Linked DNA regions of Homo sapiens. The protein of the gene in region 1 interacts with the protein of each later gene in a pairwise test. Each region holds a gene or a part of one and is shown in the gene's direction. Other genes may lie near its edges.

The links.
Region 2: the proteins of NECAP2 (region 1) and AP2B1 interact in binary tests that used the Homo sapiens proteins (3 or more experiments, as listed by UniProt).
Region 3: the proteins of NECAP2 (region 1) and PLSCR1 interact in a two-hybrid assay, tested with the Homo sapiens proteins (one large-scale study listed by BioGRID and IntAct).

What each region holds. Positions count from the first base shown.
Region 1 is NC_000001.11:16,454,191-16,457,844, forward strand, and holds part of NECAP2 (adaptin ear-binding coat-associated protein 2), read left to right. Parts: intron 1-1,627; coding exon 1,628-1,703; intron 1,704-3,654. UniProt on the Homo sapiens protein: Involved in endocytosis.
Region 2 is NC_000017.11:35,628,746-35,632,399, forward strand, and holds part of AP2B1 (AP-2 complex subunit beta), read left to right. Parts: intron 1-3,654. UniProt on the Homo sapiens protein: Component of the adaptor protein complex 2 (AP-2). Adaptor protein complexes function in protein transport via transport vesicles in different membrane traffic pathways.
Region 3 is NC_000003.12:146,520,554-146,524,207, reverse strand, and holds part of PLSCR1 (phospholipid scramblase 1), read left to right. Parts: intron 1-2,154; coding exon 2,155-2,375; intron 2,376-2,502; coding exon 2,503-2,664; intron 2,665-3,654. UniProt on the Homo sapiens protein: Catalyzes calcium-induced ATP-independent rapid bidirectional and non-specific movement of phospholipids (lipid scrambling or lipid flip-flop) between the inner and outer leaflet of the plasma membrane resulting in collapse of the phospholipid asymmetry which leads to phosphatidylserine externalization on the cell surface.

The sequences.
Region 1 (3,654 bases):
CTGGGATTACAGGCATGCGCCACCTCACGTGGCTAATTTTGTATTTTTAGTGGAGACGGGGTTTCTCCATGTTGGTCAGGCTGGTCTTGAACTCCTGACCTCAGGTGATCCTCCCGCCTTGACCTCCCAAAGTGCTGGGATTACAGGCATGAGCCACCGCACCTCGCCTACTTATTTATTTTTAAGAAGGAGTCTCACTCTGTTGCCCAGGCTGGAGTGCAGTGGCATGATCTCAGCTTACTGCAACCTCCGCTTCCTGGGTTCAAGCAATTCTCCTGCCTCAGCCTCCCAAGTAGCTGGCATTACAGGCATGCACCACCATACCTGGCTAATTTTTGTAATTTTAGTAGAGACAGAGGTTTCACCACGTTGGCCAGGCTGGTCTCGAACTCCTGACCTCAGGTGATCCACCTGCTTCAGCCACCCAAAGTGCTGGGATTACAGGCTGAGCCACTGTGCCCAGCCCAGTTTTGTGATCTTTAGAAAATCACTTCTCCATGCCTCATTTTTCTCATCTGTAGGATAGGGGAAGTAATGATACTTAAAATATAAGTTTCTTGTGAGGATCAAATAAGCTGATTTATGTATAGCACTTAGAACAATTTTTGGAACATTCTAAGTGCTCACTGAATGTTAGATCTCATTTTATTAATATCGTTATTGCCACTATATGCTGGACCTGTTCTAAGCATTCTGTGGATATTTAATCTTCACACCAGTCCTATGGAGTAGTTCCTGTTATTTTCAGCATTTTAGAGGTAAGAGAATGGAAACTGAAATGACCTGCACAGTCACGTGGCTCATCCCAATCTGTCTTTCCCTAGGGGCTGGGGTGAGGTTCACAGAAGATAATGTGCCTTGAGCACTTGGTGAACTGTAAAACTCTAAACCATTGAGGGCCCTAGTTTTATCTGTTCTCCTGGCCCAGAGCAGATTAGAAATAGCAACTTAGTGCCAAGGTGGAGGGTGGCAAACACAGGCCCTTCAGAAGGGCAGTTGGCAGCACTGGGGGAGGTGCCTGAAAAGCACAAAAGCAGGCATTGCAGCCCCATGGCGTCGCCTACCTTGGTGGAGAGATAGGATTGAGCTTCTGTGTGAGCTCTTTGGAATGCTCTTCCTGACCCCTAACCAGTTTGGGGCCTGGGACTTGGCACGTGGCTGGCACGTAGTGTTCTCAGCCAGTTCATCCAGACATGGTAGTGCAGGCTTGATATGAAGATGATCTTGCGGTTTTGGTGGACATTCTCCGTTCAAGAAGCTAAGACGGGTTATAGTAAATTTTAAATAGATTTCAACATAAATGGTTGATAACAAAGTCAGCTTCAGGTATGCATGTTAGATGACGTGAGACTAACCACCCATCCCGCGGGCACCCCTCGTTCCACCTTGTATGTGGCTTTCTGCGTTTTCTCCAGAGCGCACAAGGGCTGGTGAGAAGATGCTGGAAGTGTGGCAACTCAGGGTGTTTGGTTGCCCAAAAGCATGTCTGGTGTGGCTTTCCCAGCTACCTGGTGTCATGAGACTGATCACTGAGTCTCATGATTTGGTCATTGAAACAACCAGAAAGGTCTCTGACTTCTCTGTCCCCTCTTCTCTTCCTACGGGTCGGACTCGGGAACATCAATAGGAGGTGCTCCTGTACCCTGGCCACAGCCCAATCCTGCCACTGCTGACATCTGGGGAGACTTTACCAAATCTACAGGGTAAGGAGGGCCATGTTCTGCGGAGGGGCTGGGGCCAGGGCCGTTGCTCTACAAACCTGGTATTGTTCCACATGCCTGCCTTCTGGTGTTAGGATTAGGAGTAACAGTTTTAATTTGGATGTTTTCTTTTCTTTTTTTTTTTTTTTTGAGAGGGAGTTTTGCTCTTGTTGCCCAGGCTGGAGTGCAATGGCATGATCTTGGCTCGCTGCAACCTCTGCCTCCCAGGTTCAAGCTATTCTCCTGCCTCAGCCTCCTGAGTAGCTGGGATTACAGGCACCTGCCACCACGCCTGGCTAATTTTTTATATTTTTAGTAGAGATGGGGTTTTACCATGTTCGTCAGGGTTGTCTTGAACTCCTGACCTCAGGCGATCCACCTGCCTCGTCCTCCCAAAGTACTGGGATTACAGGCATGAGCCACCGCGCCTGGCCTGATTTGGATGTTTTCAAGCTAGCCAGAGGACAGAGCCCCAGCGTGCCTGCTTTGGGTGGCACACGTCTTTCCGTGGAGGTTTTGCTGCTTTCCAGTGCTATATAGCCTGGGGCAACCCTTTGCAAATCTGGGCCTTTAAACCGCCTTCCCAAGTGCTTTGGCTTGTCCCCAGTACCTCCTTCTTCTATACCCCATCCCCCACCTTCCCCAAAATAGTGGACTGAGAGTTCAGACCCAGGCTCCAGCCTCAGCCCATCCTCATAGAACGCCTGAGGCTAGGTGGCTTGTCTTCTCTGATTCCATAAGATCTCAAGACTTTACTTGGGGCCAGGGTGAAAAGATACTAAATTCCTACTGCACTATTATTTACATGGACAGATTCTAGGACAGGGGTCAGCACACATTTTCTTTTTCTTTTCATGTTTTGAGACAGGGTCTCTCTCTGTCACCCAGGCTGGAGTGCAGTGGCACTATCACGGCTTACTGCAACCACATTCTCCCATGTTGCTGGCTCTACAGGTGCACATCACCATGCCAGCTATTTTTTGTATTTTTTCATAGATACGGGGTTTTGCCATGTTGCGCAGGCTGGCCTTGAACTCCTGGGCTCAAGCGATCTGCCTGCCTCGGCCTCCCAGAGTGCTGGGATTATAGGCACGAGCCAGTGTGCCCAGCCACATTTTCTGTAAAGGACTAGATAGCAAATAGTTTAGACTATTCAGGCCGTGTGGTCTTCGTTCTAGCTACTCAGTTCTGCTCTTGTTGCACAAAAGCAGCCACAGACAATATGTAAATAAATCAGCATGGCTGTGTGCCAGTAAAATTTTATTTACAAAAATAGAGGCATGGGCTGGGCGCGGTGGCTCATGCCTGTAATCCCAGCACTTTGGGATTCCCAGGCAGGCGGATCACCTGAGGTCAGGAGTTCAAGACCAGCCTGGCCAACATGGTCAAACCCCATCTCTACTAAATACACAAAAATTAGTTGGGCGTGGTGGGGTGGTGCCTGTAATCCCAGCTACTTGGGAGGCTGAGGCACGAGAATTGCTTGAACCCGGGAGATTGCAGTCAGCTGACATCATGCCACTCTAGTCCAGCCTGGGTCACAAGAGCAAGACTCCATCTCAAAAAACAAATAAACAAACAAAAAAAACAGAGGCGTGAAATGAGGACTGTAACCCTTTTCCTGTTTGCCCTGAGAAAACTTGCCAGTGGCACTTCAGACTGCAGCGTTGACCCTGAGATAACTTTGCCACAAAATGTATTGCTTTTATATTATTTTTGCATCGCTCTAGTATATCAGCTTTGGAACAAAAGACATTCTATTTATAGCATTCTGTTTTTAATAGTGGTATTTCCATTTACAAAATATAGTAATTCTGTTTTTTTTTTTTTTTTTTTTTTGAGACAAGGTTTCACTCTGGTTGCCTAGGCTGGAGTGCAGTGGCGTGATGTCGGCTCACTGCATCCTTGACCTTCCAGGCTCAGGTGATTATCCCTTAGCCTCCTGAGTAGCTGG
Region 2 (3,654 bases), on another chromosome or scaffold:
TTTTCCAGTGTAGTTACATAATGAAGGTTTTTGTTCCTATATCCATTATCATGGTAGATTGAAATAATATGCCTTTGTTTCTTATTCTATCAACTGTTGGCTTGCAAAATTTATGCATATTACGACTGTGTAAATATTTAGGGCCAATGTAATGCAAATGATTACATTTTCTTTCTTATAGCATCTTTTTTTTTTCTGGAGGTTTTTTGTTTTGTTTTGATTTTTGAGACAGAGTCTCTGTTGCCCAGGCTGGAGTGCAGTGGTATGATCTCGGCTCACTGCAACCTCTGCCTCCCGGGCTCAAGCGACTCTTATGCCTCAGCCTCCTGAGTAGCTGGGATTACAGGCATACGCTACCACACCTAGCTAATTTTTGTATTTTTAGTAGAGACGAGGTTCGCCATGTTGGCTGGGCTGGTCTTGAACTCCTAGCCTCAAGTGATCCGCCTGCCTCAGCCTCCCAAAGTGTTGAGATTATAGGTGTGAGTTACCACACCTGGCCCTGGAGTTTCTTTAATTGCCTCTTTTTTTCTTGCATGTGTGTCTTTATCATGCCCCTATATTATTCCTGTTCCTTAAGCATAATATCAAATCTGTAAACTTTCTTTTGTCTTAGACCCTTCTCTTTTGCAGTCCTCTGTCTTCTTGTTTTTTCTACTCTGACTGATTGCTTTTCTGGCTTCTGCACATCATTCCATACAGCCTCCCTATTTCTTGTTATTGGTATATTTTTCCTTGCATTGCTCTTTTTGTGGTTGCAATAGCTTCTTGAATCTCTGAGGATATGAATGATTCGTTTTTTTGTTTCTGCACTTTGAATTTAATTATCGGATATTTTTTGGTGATGATTGCATATCTATGCATATAATTTTTTAATTGAGATGTATACCATGCATACAGTAAAGTGCAGCTCGTTTCTGTTTAAGAAAGAGGTAACAGAAAAGTTGATTAGGACTTCTGTATACATAGGCAAGGCTGTCGACTATCAGGTTTCTGCTTTAGGGAAGGGGGTTTATCTTTACATGGAAGACCTCTTGAAGAGCCTATCTGGTCTTAGAGGGCAGATTGGTTTCTAGCTTGGCTGCAGCCTTCCGGTAAGTATTATGGGCTGTAATTTACATTGCCCTGCTTCATCAGTCAGCAGTCCTCCATTTGTTTGTCCTCATTCAGAAATTTGTTGAAATTAACAGTGGCTTCTGTTCACTGTTTTTATGGGTTCAGAGCCCCATGTTTGTTCTTGCTACTTGATTATATGCAGTTCTGCCTAGAGTCAGAGGATTGGACCATATGATTTCTCAGGAATACGAAAACAATTTGTACAGTATGACCAGTACTTTACCGGAACAAAAGGAGGCAGATGTGTGTCAGAGAATCTTCTATGAAATACCTGTTCCTAATTGGCCTTCCTTGTTTTTTTTCAGTTTAGTGCTGCTTCATGTAGTTTCTGTTGATAAATAATTTAATAGAAAGGCTGTTAACAGCAAGAAGTTAGCTAGTCCTGGGTTCTATTCCTGGTTCTGCTAGCTCACTTGATTCAGATATTTAATGTTTCTCTTCATTGGAGAAATGTTAAAGTCTTTTTGTTGGATCTTGATATGTTAACATTGTTTTTATTACCACTGTCACCACACGTCACAACTTGTTTTTCTTTTCTTTTTACGTTAACATATCTTACTAGCCGTCTACTTAGTATTAATGTAGATAATTTTCAGAGAGATTTTGGTAGCATAAGAGTAAGGTGGTTTTGTTCTCTTCACTAGTGTACATAGCCATCTTTTCCACAAGACTGCCATTGTCTTATGACCTACCTCTCTGACAAAGCTGTAAACAGTAATACAAAAATTATATCTTATTCTGAAGTTCAGAGACTTTCTAGCCCTGGAATTACTAGAAAGTGTTCTCAAAGCATCTAGATTCCTCAAGGCTGTTAGTCATCTATTGTGACTAATGGAAAGGTTCTCCATAATCTTCTGGAAAAGACTTCTGATGGCTTTCACTTCTTCCTTTGACTAAGCGTGCTTTGATGGGAGTATGACAGGATGTGAGGAATGAACTTTCCCAGGAAACTTAAGGTCACCCTTCAGGAATCCTGTCTTATCTAGTGCTGTCATTTCAGATTACCCAGATTTACCTTAGAACTTTTCCTGTAACTGTTTCAGCCATGAAGGTTTTCAGTTTGACAGAGTTGCCAAGCCAAACAGTTAATTGGACCAGGAGAGGCAATGATTGCCTGTTTGCACTAACTCATCCATGGGACAGGAATCAGCAGCATAAGAATTGTAATGAACTTTCTGTATAGCTTTGGGAAGCAACAAGCTGTTGAGCAAATAAATAGCACTGAAAAAGCAATCCTATGGTGCTATTTTTTTGTTCAATAACTTTTGCCTATTTCTTTCAGGAGTAAACAAACTCCTGGTCCTTTTCAGTTTTAAAAAGGAGAGAGGTTGAGGCACTAGGTTAAGACCAGGAGTTCTTCACTTCCTGGTCTTCTGGTTATTTTCTGTTTACTATTTCTGATTTTTATATATTAGAATAAAATATTGGTTTGTGTGTCATTTCTTAAAGACAAAAAACATATTTTTCCTATTAGGAAAACCATATTTGTTTACTATATATAATTATAGAACAAGTTAAACAAAAAATGGGGTACCCCGCTTTCCCCATCTTCTGTTTCACTCTCTCAGATATGCAGTGGACATAATCTGGTAGACATCATTTTATATCATTGTTTATATAGTGTTCTATACAAAGATGTATTTTTTTATAAAAATGAAATCATTCCACAAATGCTATTTATTTACTTTGTTTTATCCTCTACTTTTTTTTTTCTTACTAGTAATATCATGGACATTGATCCACATTATAAAGAAAAATTTATGTCATCTTTAGTTTCTGGTTTATAGACATAACGTGATTACTTGATAACTTACTGAATTTGTAACTTTATCCCTTATTATAGGACCTTAAAGTTGTTTCTACTCTTTTTCCAAATGGTGGTATAAGGAGTATCCTTGCAACTAAATCTTTGAACTCTAGTTGAAGTGAACATTTTTTCATAACAGTTATGCTTATTAGCCATTTGGGAATTGCTCACTCATGTCCTCTGCACCTTTTTCCAATATGTTATCTTTTCCACATTGTTGTTTTAAAGTCTTTTGTAATTGAGATGTTAACCCTTCTTTTAGTTAGCATTTATTTTCCTAGTTTGTTGTCCTTTAGATTTCTTCTGCTTTCTTGATGCACAGAAGTTTAGATTTTTGTATCAGCTTTTCTCAGTCAGTGTTTTTCCTCAGTGGCACACTTAGAAAATTGTGCTTCACCTAAAGTTATATAAAATTCACTATTTTTTTTTTTTTTACTTCTATGGCAATGATTTTGTTTTATTTGTTTTTTGGGGGGTGGTGGGGAAATGGAGTCTTGACTTGTCGCCCAGGCTGGAGTGCAAATGGCGCAATCTCAGCTCACTGCAACCTCTGCCTCCTGGGTTCAAGTGATTCTCCTGCCTCAGCCTCCAGAGTAGCTGGGATTACAGACATGCACCACCATGCCCGGCTAATTTTTGTATTTTTAGTAGAAACAGGGTTTCACCATGTTGGCTATGCTGGTCTTGAACTCCTGACCTCAGATGATCCACCCGCCTTGGCCTCCCAAAAT
Region 3 (3,654 bases), on another chromosome or scaffold:
CTGGAGATTTTTGAGATTAAGCTACTTAATGTAACAATTAATTAGATAATGAATGTCCTCTCAAAATCAGCTTAACTTTTTTCTCATCAAACATTTGACTATTTCAGATGTTGAAATCAGACGTTGTTCCTATAAATGCAGAGTACAGGGTCTGTCTGTGTCCCACCAAGGACACTTAAAGGAGTTCATGGTGGTAAGACTTGTGAAGGCCGTCTTTATCCGACTCAGAGTCTTTCCACATAGGCATTATAGAGTGACTTTTCCTCCATATATTTATTTTAATCACTCATTATTTTAGCCAGGCTTCTGACATCTATGACCCCAGTTACTGAGGACTATGTACAAATGGGACAGTTATTGCTCCTTTCTGGCTTTAAATATGGAGAGGTTTCCAATGTATGGTTAGATATGGAAAGCCCTTGATACAAAGTATGTGAGTGTCAGCATTTTGCAGCCATCTGTTTCCCTCATGAAGATAGATTAGCCCAGCAAAGGTGCAGAGTTCACTTAGGATTCCCACGGTCTAGATATTCTGTGAGTTGAAGCCTTGGTTGCCGAACACGTTTGTCTAATACCCACCTCCCACTTCTGAACAACTACTGTTGAGTTGAATAAGGATGCCCTGGGTCCAATGTGACATTCTAATTCATCTTTCATTTTTACTCCCTCGGTTTTTATGCGTGTACATTGCCTTCTTTCAAAAGCATTGCAAAAAAATAAGACATAAGTAAGGTTTATAAGACAGTCTCAAACCAATTGATTTAATATAAAATTTCATAGCACATAAACAGCAATCCTCTTATATTCCCCTCCACATTACACATAAACTATCCTGCATTAGTGGACATTTTATCTATACACCTAGCACCACCGTGCCCACCCACAGCATTGCCCCAACTCTCAGCAGAAAAGTCTCTCTTCTGACAGACATTTATGGAATTAGGAAAATATAACTTGTTTCCAGTGTCTCACATAATGAAGGGATGGGTTGCCCCTCCACACTTGTGGGTGTTTCTTGTTAGGCGGAACGAGAGACTTGGAAAAGAAAAGACACAGAGACAAAGTATAGAGAAAGAAAAATGGGCCCAGGGGACTGGCATTCAGCATACGGAGGACCCGCGCCAGCACCGGCCTCTGAGTTCCCTTAGTATTTATTGATCATTATCGGGCGTTTCCCGGAGAGGGGGATGTGGCAGGACAATAGGATAATAGTGGGGAGAAGGTCAGCATGTAAACACGTGAACAAATGTCTCTGCATCATAAAAAGGTAAAGAAAAAGGTGCTGTGCTTTTGATGTGCATATACATAAACATCTCAATGCCTTAAAGAGCAGTATTGCTGCCAGCACGTCCCACCTCCAGCCCTAAGGCAGTTTTCCCCTATCTCAGTAGATGGAATATACAATTGGGCTTTACACCTAGACGTTCCATTGCCCAGGGACGAGCAGGAGACAGATACCTTCCTCTTATCTCAACTGCAAAGACGCGTTCCTTCCTCTTTTACTAATCCCCCTCAGTGCAGACCCTTTACGGGTGTCGGACTGGTGGACGGTCAGGTCTTTCCCTTCCCAGGAGGCCATATTTCAGACTATCACATGGGGAGAAACCTTGGACAATACCTGGCTTTCCTAGGCAGAGGTCCCTGTGGCCTTCCACAGTGTTTTGTGTCCCTGGGTACTTGAGATTAGGGAGTGGTGATGACTCTTAACAAGCATGCTGCCTTCAAGCATTTGTTTAACAAAGCACATCCTGCACAGCCCTTAATCCATTTAACCCTAAATTGACACAGCACATGTTTCAGGGAGCACAGGGTGGGGGGTAGGGTTACAGATTAACAGCATCTCAAGGCAGAAAAATTTTTCTTAGTACAGAACAAAATGGAGTCTCTTATGTCTACTTCTTTCTACACAGACATGGTAACAATCTGATCTCTCTTTTCCCCACGGCATAAGGACTTAATTTCTCTATACATTGGTAATCTCTCCTTTTTTTTGCCATTTTTCTCTGTCTGGATCATCTCTAAACATCATTTCTTCTCCTCCTTATGCCACTTGGGGTATCATCAAAAACTGGCATAGCTAGATATTATAATATCTGGATAAATTCAATATTTTTAACATAGAGGTGATTATGATTTCGTCTTTTATGTTTTTAGTTTTAACAGGTTTTGAAACTAATAACAAATATGAAATTAAGAACAGCTTTGGACAGAGGGTTTACTTTGCAGCGGAAGATACTGATTGCTGTACCCGAAATTGCTGTGGGCCATCTAGACCTTTTACCTTGAGGATTATTGATAATATGGGTCAAGAAGTCATAACTCTGGAGAGACCACTAAGATGTAGCAGCTGTTGTTGTCCCTGCTGCCTTCAGGAGGTCTGTGATCAATTACCAGGGCACTTTGTAAAATAGTTCAGCAAGAATTTCTGCCCTGTCATTGAACCTTTCATCGAACCTAGGCATTATGATTATTACATTTACATATATTATTTTGCCTTTGTAGATAGAAATCCAAGCTCCTCCTGGTGTACCAATAGGTTATGTTATTCAGACTTGGCACCCATGTCTACCAAAGTTTACAATTCAAAATGAGAAAAGAGAGGATGTACTAAAAATAAGTGGTCCATGTGTTGTGTGCAGCTGTTGTGGAGATGTTGATTTTGAGGTAAGAGATGTCATAATGTTTATAAGATTTGCTTTCCTAATATAAGAAGAATGTAATTTTGCAGGACATTATAAATGCATTAAATAAGTGTTGTGTGCCAATGTCTCAATAGCAAGATGATTTTCTCATTTATTTAACTTTGGGCAGAGTGGTAGTTATCACTCTGATTAAAGGTCACTGTTGGTCATGAGAAATGGAAAAAAAAGAAGCAGACCTATGTAGTCAAATAAAAATAAGCAAATCATCCCTCACTTAAACGTGGTGGTTTCTATGTGATGACACTGTATATTATCCATTTTAAACAGAACGTTAACCTTGCCATCTAAGTCTGATTGCCAAAGCATATGGATCCTTCTTAAATCTGAAATATCATCTGCCAATGCTCAAGGCCATGTTCAGAATGTCTGACATCTTTGAATTCCTACAAGAAGCCCAATTATGCAAAGATAGTTTTGAGAAAATTAGTATAATATGTACTACCCAGTTATGCTTCTCTGTGGTCTCTCCTTTTCCCTATATTAAATTAGGTCACTAGAAGCTGCAACATATTAATATTTGTATATTTACTGTAATACATTGTAGAATTTCATTAGAGTAGCTCTTCAACAACAGATGGTCTACTTTTACAATCCAAATTTTTTCATTGCAAATGTTTAAAAATCAGAAGGTTTTATAACTTAATCTTGATTTCTTGTTTCTCTTGGAAAATCAGAAAATTGGGTTAACTGGGCCCACCTTTCCAACAAAAGGGTAAAAATCTACTAAAGATGTGTGGGGCTGCCCCTTGTAATAATGACATGGGAACTCTACCACTGTCTCCACCCCTTACTGAGGTTTTTCAATATCCAGTGTCATTCATTTATGTGATCTGCCTGCCTTCTTTAATCACATGGTATTTTATTCCTCCGTCAGACTTTAGCTATATAAAGATGAATCCTTTCCCCCATTGACTTCATAATCTAATGACAGAGATTTGCAGTTCTAAGGAGG